Linked DNA regions of Homo sapiens: region 2 is linked to region 1. The links come from fine-mapping of genetic effects on gene expression. A gene starts in region 1. The other region holds a variant in brackets. All regions are shown on one strand. Distances are from middle to middle. Region 1 holds the start of RIPK1 (receptor interacting serine/threonine kinase 1). Region 2 holds the start of SERPINB6 (serpin family B member 6).

Region 1 (5,377 bases):
GCATCTTCTGCATGGTGTTCAGTGATTTCTTTTGTTTTTCCTATCCACCCCTCTTTTTTCCACATGAAAGATTCAACTTTATGAGCACTGAATATCTTAGGAAGGCCTTGTGAGTAGTTGAAGGATATACAAAAACAGTGAATTTAGGCAGCTTATATGGCCATACTGCATAACCATATTATTACAAAGCCATGACACAGAGTGACAAAGACATGCTGGCCTGTTATAGCAAATAATTTTAACTAATAATTACGTCCATTTGAAGGAATTTGTAAATGTTTTGCATAAATATTAATTCAGGGACTCAGGACAGTGAATTTGTTTCTATTGAAATTAATGTGAAATCTCAAGGAATTTCACGATTACCTTCTAAGGCAGGGTAAGTATACATATCAAAATATTCTAATTAACTTTTTCCCCATTTTTCTATGATGACCACACATAACAAGAGAATGGCAGAAAATGCTGGTTGCCCACCTGCCATTGCCCCCTTTCTTCCCACTAACAGAATTCTGATTTTGCTCAGCTATCCAAGTGACCAGAGGATTTCTCCAACTTCCTTGATTACAGCAGCCTGATGCTTTGCCTGGATAAACAAAAGCTCTGAGCAAGGAAGAGACTTAAGGACCAGCAAGAGACAAGAATTGAAACAGAGTTTAAACAAGCATCATAACCCCTGAAGCAAATTTTATCATGATTTCAATTTGCAAATAAAGAAACTAAGATTTGGAGCTAAGTGATTCACCTAAAGTGGTAGGATCCTGGAATGAAATATTTGTCCCTTCATTCAAACTTTCACTATTGGCTCACTAATACATGCTACTTCTCTAGATAGCAAATAATCTGTCTTCGGAAAAATCCAGATGCAAAGACCCACCCTTACAGCCTTACTCATCTATATTAAATAAATGTGCGACAGTCAGAAACACGGAGAAAGTACAGAATAAACTTTTTAAATACAGGAAGGTGAGGTGCAGGGGCTCATGCCTGTAATCCCAGCACTTTGGGAGGCCAAGGAGGGCAGATTGCCAAGAGTTTGAGACCAGATTGGCCAACGTGGTGAAGCCCTGTCTCTACTAAAAATACAAAAATTAGCCAGGCATGGTAGTGCATGCCTACAATCCCAGCTTCTTGGGAGGCTGAGGCAGGAGAACTGCTTGAACCCGGGAGGCGAAGGTTACATTAAGCCGCGATCGCGCCACTGCACTCCAGCCTGGGTGACAGAGCAAGACTCTGTCTCAAAAATAAAAATACACGGCTCATGTATTTTTGAAATATATGGTTCAAAATCAATGTTCTACAGATTAATACAGTCAACCTTTTTTGCCAGAATGTAATATCCAACTAAAGCATGGGAAATTAAGTATTTTCTTCAAATTCCCAGATCATATGGATGTTAACACGTTATAGATTAATAAGCACCAAAAAGTAAGCTGCCCAGTTTGAAAGAGGCTGTTTAAGAGCTTTTCTTAATACTCATTAATATTCACATTCCAGAAAGTACAACATATCTCTGAGGCTCAGTATAGTTCAGACAGAGGAAAATGAGTATTAAAAGTTATCATTTTTGCTATTTTATCAGTAATAATGATACACTCCAAATTTCATTTTAAACAAGCCTAGTCTTCACTTTTTGTGAATAGAAGAGCTGCAGTATTCCCCATTTCTTTATTTATTTTTTTTTTTGATACAGAGTCTCCCTCTGTCGCCCAGGATAGAGTGTAAGTGGCAATCTCGGCTCACTGCAACTACCGCCTCCTGGGTTCAAGCCATTCTCCTGCCTCAGCCTCCCGCGTAGCTGGGATTACAGGGACCCGCCACCACACCTGGCTAATTTTTGTATTTTTAGTAGAGACAGGGTTTTGCCATGTTGGCCAGGCTGGTCTCGAACTCCTGACCTCAGGTGATCCTCCCACCTCGGCCTCCGAAGTGCTCGGATTACAGGAGTGAGCCACCGTGCCCGACGCAGTATTCCACATTTCTAACAAGACAATTTCCTCTTGACTCAGTCCATCTTCCTAGCAGTCACAGAATGCAGATGAGTACTAAGACATTGCACATTTCAAAGTTCACTTCCTGCCTTGGCTTCTTCAAGTGTAAGTCAGGGAAGAATTAATCATTGGAACAGCCTCCTGCTTTGCCCAAAATAAAAAAGAGCTCTGATTAAGGGAGAGCCAAATGGTCAGCAAGAGAGAAAGAACTAACAACCCCAGACCTCCCCCTGCCCCCGCAACCCCCGCATCCCTGTGAGGCTTTGTCAAATGCTTAGGGAAGGAGGATGCAGCCTATCCTCTTCCCAACCCTCAAGAGGGTCCGCAGCACTTCACAAAAGCACCTGCCAGTGACAGAAGCCTGCTAGGGTTACCACATTCGTCCCCTCAGTCGTCTAAGATCACGCAGAAATGCTTTTGTTTTTGGAACCTGCTGCGGCCTCAAGCGCAACAGTAAAAGGCCCTTTCAAAGGGCTGGTAAGGGAAGAGCCCAAACTGTTTTTTCTTAATGATAGGGCACTAGGAGCCCACCTTCTCCACCAAAACAACATTAATGGCGTGTGGGACTGCCTATTCCACCCTCACGCGGTAACCGCGGCCCAAAGGCAGGTCTCCGCCCGCTACCAGTCCAGCGCCCCGACCTCTGGCACAGAGGCGGCCAGCGGACTCCGGATAAGCAGAGACACCTAGCGGAGCACCCCTGACTTCCGGGAGCGCCCGCGGCCCCGCCCACCGCCCGACTTCCGGTACCGGCGGGGCCCGCCCGCCGCGCGCACCCCGGGCAGAGTCCCTCTCCTTCCGGGAAGCCCGCGGCCGCCCCGGCCTCCACGCAAGCACCCGAGCGTTACTTTCGTTTCCGCGGCAAACGTCTGGAGGCCCGGGTGAGGGAAGAAGCGGCGGCGGAGGGTTGGGGATTACTCCGACGCCGCGGCAGCCTTGCCCGGGCGTGCTGGGGGAGGGCGCGCGAACCCCGACCAGGGGGGTCACCGGGACTGAGCCCGGCGGCCTCCGGAATGTTCCCCGCGCGGTGCCAGTCCGCTCACCGCGCCCTTCTCCGTGGCCGCGCCGTCCAGCCAAGTCCTGCCGCGCTCCGTCGGCCCCGCCCGGATGGCCGCGCTCTGGCGCCCCAGCTGTGGGTCCCCTGGAGTCGCCGCGCTCCGGCAGCTGGCCCGCCGTCCGCGTCGAGCGCGCCCGGCTGGAGGGCGTGGACTGTTCGCGCTGCCTCCTCCCCCTGCCCCGGCCCTTGCCGGGGAGGAGGACCGCGAGAGCGCCGCCCCGCCGCTCGTGGGACCTCGCGCCCGGGGTCTGAGTCCCGGAGCTCTCTTGCGGGCTAGAGGATCGCGGACTTTGTTTTCAAGCGAGTGGGGCGGCCTACGTAAAAGAGGAAACCGAAACCTCCGCGCGCACGAGAGGGAGAAGGGTCTGGAGGGAAGCACTGGGTGGATTACAGCGGGGGCGCTATCCGGAGGATTCAGAGCTCTGCGGGTTAGCATAGGCAAGTTAGCATTCCTCTACCTTCATCTGTAAAGTGGGGCTGTTGAGGAGGAAATGTGATTATTTTGCAGCCCTTTAAAATGGTAATTGTGAAGTCTCGAGCAAAGTTGGAACTGCATGCTATTCATGTATATTAAAAATCAAATAATAAAATTATATGCACATCAGGCCGGGCGCGGTTGTTCACGCCTGTAATCCCAGCACTTTGGGAAGCCAAGGCGGGCGGATCACTTGAGGTCAGCAGTTCGAGACCAGCCTGGCCAACATGGTGAAACCCCATCTCTACTAAAAAATACAAAAATCAACTGGGCGTGGTGGCGGGCACCAGCAATCCCAGCTACTCGGGAGGCTGAGGCAGGAGAATCCCTTGAACCTGGGAGGTGGAGATTGTAGTGAGCCGAGATCGCGCCACTGCACTCCAGCCTGGGTGACAAGAGCAAGATTCCGTCTCAAAAGGAAAAAAAAAAAAAGCACAACAGGATTACATACTGTGAAAAGATATGTATGTCAAGAGAACTAGCCACGTTCACAACACGAGCCACAGACTGGGAGAAAATATTTGCAAAAGACATATCTGATAAAGCACTGTGACCCAAAATATACCAAAAAAAACCCTCTTAAAATGCAACAATATGAAAATGTACAACTTGATTAAAGGCGGGCAAAAGCTCTGAACATACACCTCACCATATGTATATGCATATGAAAAGATGCTCAACATCATGTCATTAAAGAATTGCAATTTAAAAAAACAAATACTATTACACATTTATTAGAATGGCTAAAATTCAGAACACTGACAACAACAAATGTTGATGAGGATCTGGAGCACAAGGAACTCCCATACATTCCTAGTGGGAATGCCTAATGTTAGAGTCTGGAAGACATTTTGGCAATTTCTTAACCAAGCTCTTCTTACCATAAGATGAAGCAACTCCACACCTTGGTATTTACCCAAACGAGTTGAAAGCTTATGCCCATACAAACACCTGTACAAGAATGTCTATAGCAGCTTTATTCATAATTGCCAAAACTTGAGGGCATCCAAGATATCACTTAATGGGTGGACAGATAAGCTGTGGTACATCTATACAATGGAATATTAAGTGCTAAAAAGAAATGAGCTCTGAAGCCACAAAAAAAAAAAAAAAAAAAAAAATCCTGGAGCAATCCTAAATGTATAAATCTAAGTGAAAGAAGCCAATCTGAGAAGACTACATAATGCATGATTCCAACTATGTGACATTCTGGAAAAGGAAAAACTACGGAGATAGTAAAAAAGATCAGCGGCTGCCAGGGATTTGCAGGGAAGGAGGGATGGATAGGTGAGGCACAAGGGATTTTTAGGGCAGTGGAGTCTGACGTTACAGGGTTGGGTACATCTCTATACATTTGTCAAATGTATCTTGAATATACACAAAGAGCAAAACCTAACAAACTCCGGACTTTGGCTGATAATGTATATGTTTTATCCATATTGGTTCATTTTTGTAACCATGAATCTATGTTGGTTTATCAGGTGTGACAAATATTCCACAGTAATGCAGGATGTTGATGGTAGGGGAGGCTGTACAGTCCAGGATGTTTGTGGAAGGGGATATTTTCTTTCTGCTTAGTTTTGCTGTAAACCAAAACAGCTCTAAAACAAAGTCTATTCATTATTTTTTAAAAGATGTACACATATCAAAAAAGACGAAAGGCAGAGCTATTCACTCAGCAAAGCTTTCTATCTACTGTATGCCAAGCAGGTACTAGATACAAGAGCATCTGGTGATAGATACAAGAAATACAAAAAGGAATTCATTCCTTCAGTAAATATTTACTGAGCACCTGTTCTAGGCACTGAAGACTCGGTTGTGAATTAAACACAAAAAATCTCTATGTTCTGGCCG
Region 2 (5,377 bases), 96 kb after region 1:
AAATAACTAGAAATAAACTAAACAAGAAATGTGCAAATCTTACATGAACAAAACTTTAAAGGAAAAAGGAAAAAAATTATTTGAAGGAACAGAAAGACCCAGCATGTTCTTGGCTAGAACAACTAAATCAAAGTACAAATGTTGGTTTATAACAGGGTAATATGTAAATTCAATATGTTTCTAATAGATTACCAACAAGATTTATTTTTATTTTCATTTATTTTATTTTTATTTTATTTTATGTTTTTGAGACAGAGTCTCGCTCTGGTGATCCACTCACCTCTGCCTCCCAAAGTCCTGGGATTATAGGCGTGAGCCACTGCATCTGGCCTGTTTGACTACAGTTTAATTTTATTTTTTTAATTATTATATATATATTTTTTTGAGACAGGGTCTCGCTCCATCATCCAGGCTGGAGTATAATGGCACCATCTCAGCTCACTGTAACCTCTGCCTCCCAGGTTCAAGCAATTCTCCTGCTTCAGCCTCCCAAGCAGCTGGGATTATAGGCACACGCCACCAGGTCCAGCTAATTTTTGTATTCTTAGTAGAGATGGGGTTTCACCATGTTGGCCAGGCTGGTCTTGAACTCCTGACCAAGTGATCTGCCTGCCTTGGCCTCTCAAAGTACTGAGACTACAGGTGTAAGCCACCATGCCCTGCCAACAAGATTTTTTTCTTTAGAGCTAGACAAGTTGACTCTTAAATTTGTATGGGTGAGGCCGGGTGCGGTGGCTGACACCTGTAATCCCAGCACTTTGGGAGGCTGAGGAGGGTGGATCATGAGTTCAGGAGTTTGAGACCAGCCTGGCCAACATGGTGAACCCTCATCTCTACTAAGAATACAAAAATTAGCTGGGTGTGGTGGCATGCGCCTGTAATACCAGCTACTTGGGAGGCTGAGGCATGAGAATCGCTTGAACTCAGGATATGGAGGTTTCAGTGAGCCAAGATCGCACCACTGCACTCCAGCCTGGGTGACAGAGAGGGACTCCAGCTCAAAAAAAAAAAAAAAAGTTTGTATGGGAGAAAAAGCAACAAGGAGAGCCAGGAAAATCTGAAGCAGAAGAGCAGTAAGGAGAATGCGCTGTACGAGATATTGAATCATAAGAGAAAACCTCTATAACTGAAAGAATCTGACCAACAGAACCAAATAGAAAGTTTAGAAAGTTCAGAATCAGACCCAAGTATATGCAGCTATTTGATATATAACATAGGTGGCATGTGAAGACATTAGTGAAAATGGTTTTTCAATAAACAGAGGTGGAAAAACTGAAAGTCACTTGAAAGCGAGTTAAAATTGGATCTATATTTCCCATACACCAGAATAAACTTTAAAGGGATCAGCAATCTAAATATAAAAAATAAAACTGTGCAAATACTAGAAGAAAACATTAGTGAACTCTATAATCTAGAGATTATTCTTTTTTTTAAAAAAAAAGAGATTGCTCCTTGTGAATAGAGAAAGTTTTTCTAACTACGACTCAGAAACAATAAAGGAAAAATCATTAAAGTTGACTACATTAAAAGAGTGTATGCCAAAATCACCAGAAGCAATGTCAGAAAACAGATGACAAGCTGGGGGAAATATTCGCAATTTATATCACTTAAGACTAATTAAGCCACAACTAGGGAGGGGCGTGTGGTTTGCTCCTGGCATCCACTTGGTGAATCTCCTCCAGAGATTCTGTGAAACATGTGTGATGGCAGGACAGCCCCCACAACCACAAGTTATCGGGTTCATGCGGTCAACAGTGTCGCAGTTGAGAAACTCTGCCTTAGGGTAAGCACAGAGGGAGTAAAACAGCTTGAGTTCTCAAAATTGAACTCATGTAAAACACCTGGCTAGTATCTTCCCTACTTCCATTTATGCTAGATGTTTCTGTTTTCCAAGACTGCTCTGTCTGAGATGGCAGATGGAGTTTTCATACTTACTTGGCTAACCTGTCAGTACCCTGGGGTCTAATTCCTATGCCTGGAGAGAACTGGAAGTCCTTGAACACACGGCTCAATGATGTGGGCTCTGCTCATTTATATACATTTATTTTTAAATTTAATATATATTTTAGTTTTTTTATTTCCATAGTTTTTTGGAGAACACGTGGTATTTGGTTACATGGCAAGCTTTTTTTTTTTTTTCCTGAGATGGGGTCTTGCTCTGTTGCCCAGGCTGGGGTGCAGTGGCATGATCTCAGCTCACTGCAACCAACCTCCGCCTGCTAGATTCAAGCAATTCTCCTGCCTCAGCCTCCTCAGTAGCTGGCACTACAG[A/G]TGTGTGCCACCATGCCTAATTTTTTTATATTTTTAGTAGAGACGGGGGTTTCACCATGCTGGCCAGGCTGGTCTCGAACTCCTGACCTCATGATCTGCCTGCCTTGGCCTCCCAAAGTGCTGAGATTACGGGCATGAGCCACTGCGCCCTGCCAAGTAAGTTCTTTAGTGGTGATTTGTGAGATTCTGGTGCATCTATCACCTTAGCAGTATACACTGAACTCAAATTTGTAGCCTTTTATCCCTCACTCCCTTCCCACCCTTTTCCCCCAAGTCCCCAAAGTCCATTGTATCATTCTTATGCCTTTGTATCCTCATAGTTTAGGTCCTACTTATGAGTGAGAACATACAATGTTTGGTTTTCCATTCCTGAGTTACTTCACTTAGAACAACAGTCTCCAATCCCATCCAGGTTGCCAATGCCATTAATTCATTCCTTTTTATGGCTGAGTAGCATTCCACCGTATACGCATACCACAGTTTCTTTATCCACTCTTTGATTGATGGGCATTTGGGTTGGTTTCATGTTTTTGCAATTACGAATTGTGCTGCTATTAACATGCGTGTGCAAGTATCTTTTTTGTATAATGACTTATTTTCCTCTGCGTAGATACCCAGTAGTGGGATTGCTGGATCAAATGGTAGTTCTATTTTTAGTTATTTAAGGAATCGCCATACTATTTTCCACAGTGGTTGTACTATCCATCAGCAGTGTAGAGGTGTTCCCTCTTCACCAAATCCACGCCAACATCTATTATTTTTTGAGTTTTTGATTTTTTGATTAAGGCCACTCTTGCGGGAGTAAGGTGGTATCACATTGTGGTTTTGATTTGCATTTCCCTAATCATTAGTGATGTTGAGCATTTTTTCTTGTTTGTTGGCCATTTGCATATCCTCTTTTGAGAACTGTCTATTCATGCCAGCCCACTTTTTGATGGGATTTTTTTTTCTTGCTAATTTGTTTGAGTTTCTTGTAGATTCTGGATATTACTGCTTTGTCGGATGTATAGATTGTGAAGATTTTCTCCCACTCTGTAGGTTGTCTGTTTACTCTGCTTGACTATTCCTTTTGCTTTGCAAAAGCTATTTAGTCTACTTTTTTTTTTTTTTTTTTTTTTTTTTTTTTTGAGACGGACCAGACTGGAGTGCGGTGGCGCCATCTCGGCTCACTGCAGCCTCTGCCTCCCGGGTTCAAGTGATTCTCCTGCCTCAGCTTCCCCAGCAACTGAGATTACAGGCACGCGCCATTACACTCGGCTAATTTTTGTATTTTTAGTAGAGACGGGGTTTTGCCATGTTGGCCAGGCTGGTCTGGAACTCCTGACCTCCAGTGATCCGCCTGCCTCGGCCTCCCAGTGTTGGGATTACTGGCGTGAGCCCCGCGCCCGCCCCTGGCTGGCTTCTTTGCCGCAAGCTGTTTCATCAGCAAAGTCTTTGTGACCTGTATCTAGTCTGCTCATTTTTAAATGCGTGTTCTGCACTCCCCAGTGGATGGCCGTGTATCAGGAGCCGGCCCTTTTCTGGAAACAGGCCAGCATTCAGTCTCCACAGAGGCACCATAAACACGCTGGTGGGGCCCTGTACTGTGGTCAAAGTCAAGGCCTCCGGGCAGGACTCGCGGCCCCTCCGGCTGGCGGGTGGGGTTGACCCGCACGTCCCGCCCCGCCTCTCCCTTCGCGCTCCGGACGGGCGACGGTAGCTCGAGACCCGGGACTCCGCCCGCCTCCCCGCGAGTATTTGAGGTCCGGGGCGGCTCCGGCGCCTCTGCCCGCCGTTCTGCTCGCTCGCTCCCCGCTCTGGAGTACGTGTCTGGCTTGGGAGCCGCTCGGACACGCTGGCTTGGGTTTGTCGCTCCAAAGTCGGGAAAGCCGGGGGCGCGAGCGGGGAGGGGGGCAGGGTGGGGGTCGCGCGGGGCCGGGAACGCGCGTGGGTCGACGGCGCGCGGGGACGCTGGAGCCCCGAGAATGGGGCGTGGCCGCGCGGGGCTGTGACCCCAGCAGTCCCAGCGGGGCGGGGGCCCGGGCGAGCGTCCGGCTTGGGTTCCCTTCCGGAGCCTCGCAGCGGCAGAGAACGGCGACGCGGCCGGGTGAGTCGTGCGTGGCCGCGAGCCCGGCCGGTGACGCCGCGGACCCGAGGACCCCGGGCGCCCAGGCCCAGCGCCCACGGAAGAGGCGGCCGGCGCGGGATGGGGGCGGCGCAGAGCCTCCCGGGCCACAGGTGACCCCGGTCGGCCCCGCGGCCTCGGTGACCCCTCGCCCGCTCCGCGACCCGGAGGACGCGTGCTCAGTCTTGGGGCGCCGGGTGTTAGGAGCCGGGCGGGAGGCGGAGAGAGGCCGAGGGGTTCGGCGCCAAACGGTGCCATCCGGGCCCCCTGCGTGTGTTCACTGGACTGGCCGTGCTGGGCTTGGCCAATCCGCAGCACTTTCAGGTCGCCCAGACCTGTGGAGACGATCGTGTGGACCAGCCCGGATCTCCTTACCGCTCTGTGTTTGAATTAAACTCCCTACAGGCAAACTATTACAGGCTTTGATGTCTTCAAGGCAAAGAGGAAACTTTAACTACAAATTGGCATTTAAGTTATTTTCTTCCTTTTTTTTTTTTTTTTTTTTGTCCTAAAGATTGGCTTCGGAAAACTGAGGTACAGAAAATTAATAATTAATGTTCACATGCTGTCAGGAATACTCAGATGCGAGGGGGCATCTGAGTCCATTTTTTGGGCACTTTTGCTTTCTGGGATGCTCTCGTGCCTAATGACAGCCCTGCAGCTGCCTGCATCCTTTCTGGTGGGGGTCAGGCCTGATGCGATGAGATCTGATGTGTTCAGTGACCTTCTAGTTAAGGTCCTGGGCCGGCCTTGTATTGCTGGGGCTTTTATGTGTGCTGGGATTAACACCAGTGACTGCTGTTATCAGCATAGATGGCGTTTGTTCTCATTTCAGGACCGTATCTGAGTAATTGCATCCATTGTGATGTGCCACCAAAGAGAAAAGTACTTTGGTCATACTCGACTATGTAAACTAAGTATTTTAAGTTAAGGCCAATTCCAATGCATTTTATTACAATTCAGCATGAAACAGTTAACACGGACCAGTAACAGTAGAGTGAA

The links.
Region 2: its variant is fine-mapped to the expression of RIPK1 in whole blood (TOPMed, PIP 0.99).

The regions. Positions count from the first base shown.
Region 1 is chr6:3,066,319-3,071,695 of GRCh38, reverse strand. RIPK1 (receptor interacting serine/threonine kinase 1) reads right to left here and starts at 3,202. Exons shown (of 11, transcript NM_001354930.2): 1 at 3,035-3,202. RefSeq lists a silencer at 2,544-3,333.
Region 2 is chr6:2,970,228-2,975,604 of GRCh38, reverse strand. It overlaps SERPINB6 (serpin family B member 6), which reads left to right and starts at 4,038. Exons shown (of 7, transcript NM_004568.6): 1 at 4,038-4,072. RefSeq lists an enhancer at 3,733-4,257. The variant A/G (reference allele first, on the strand shown) is at 2,272.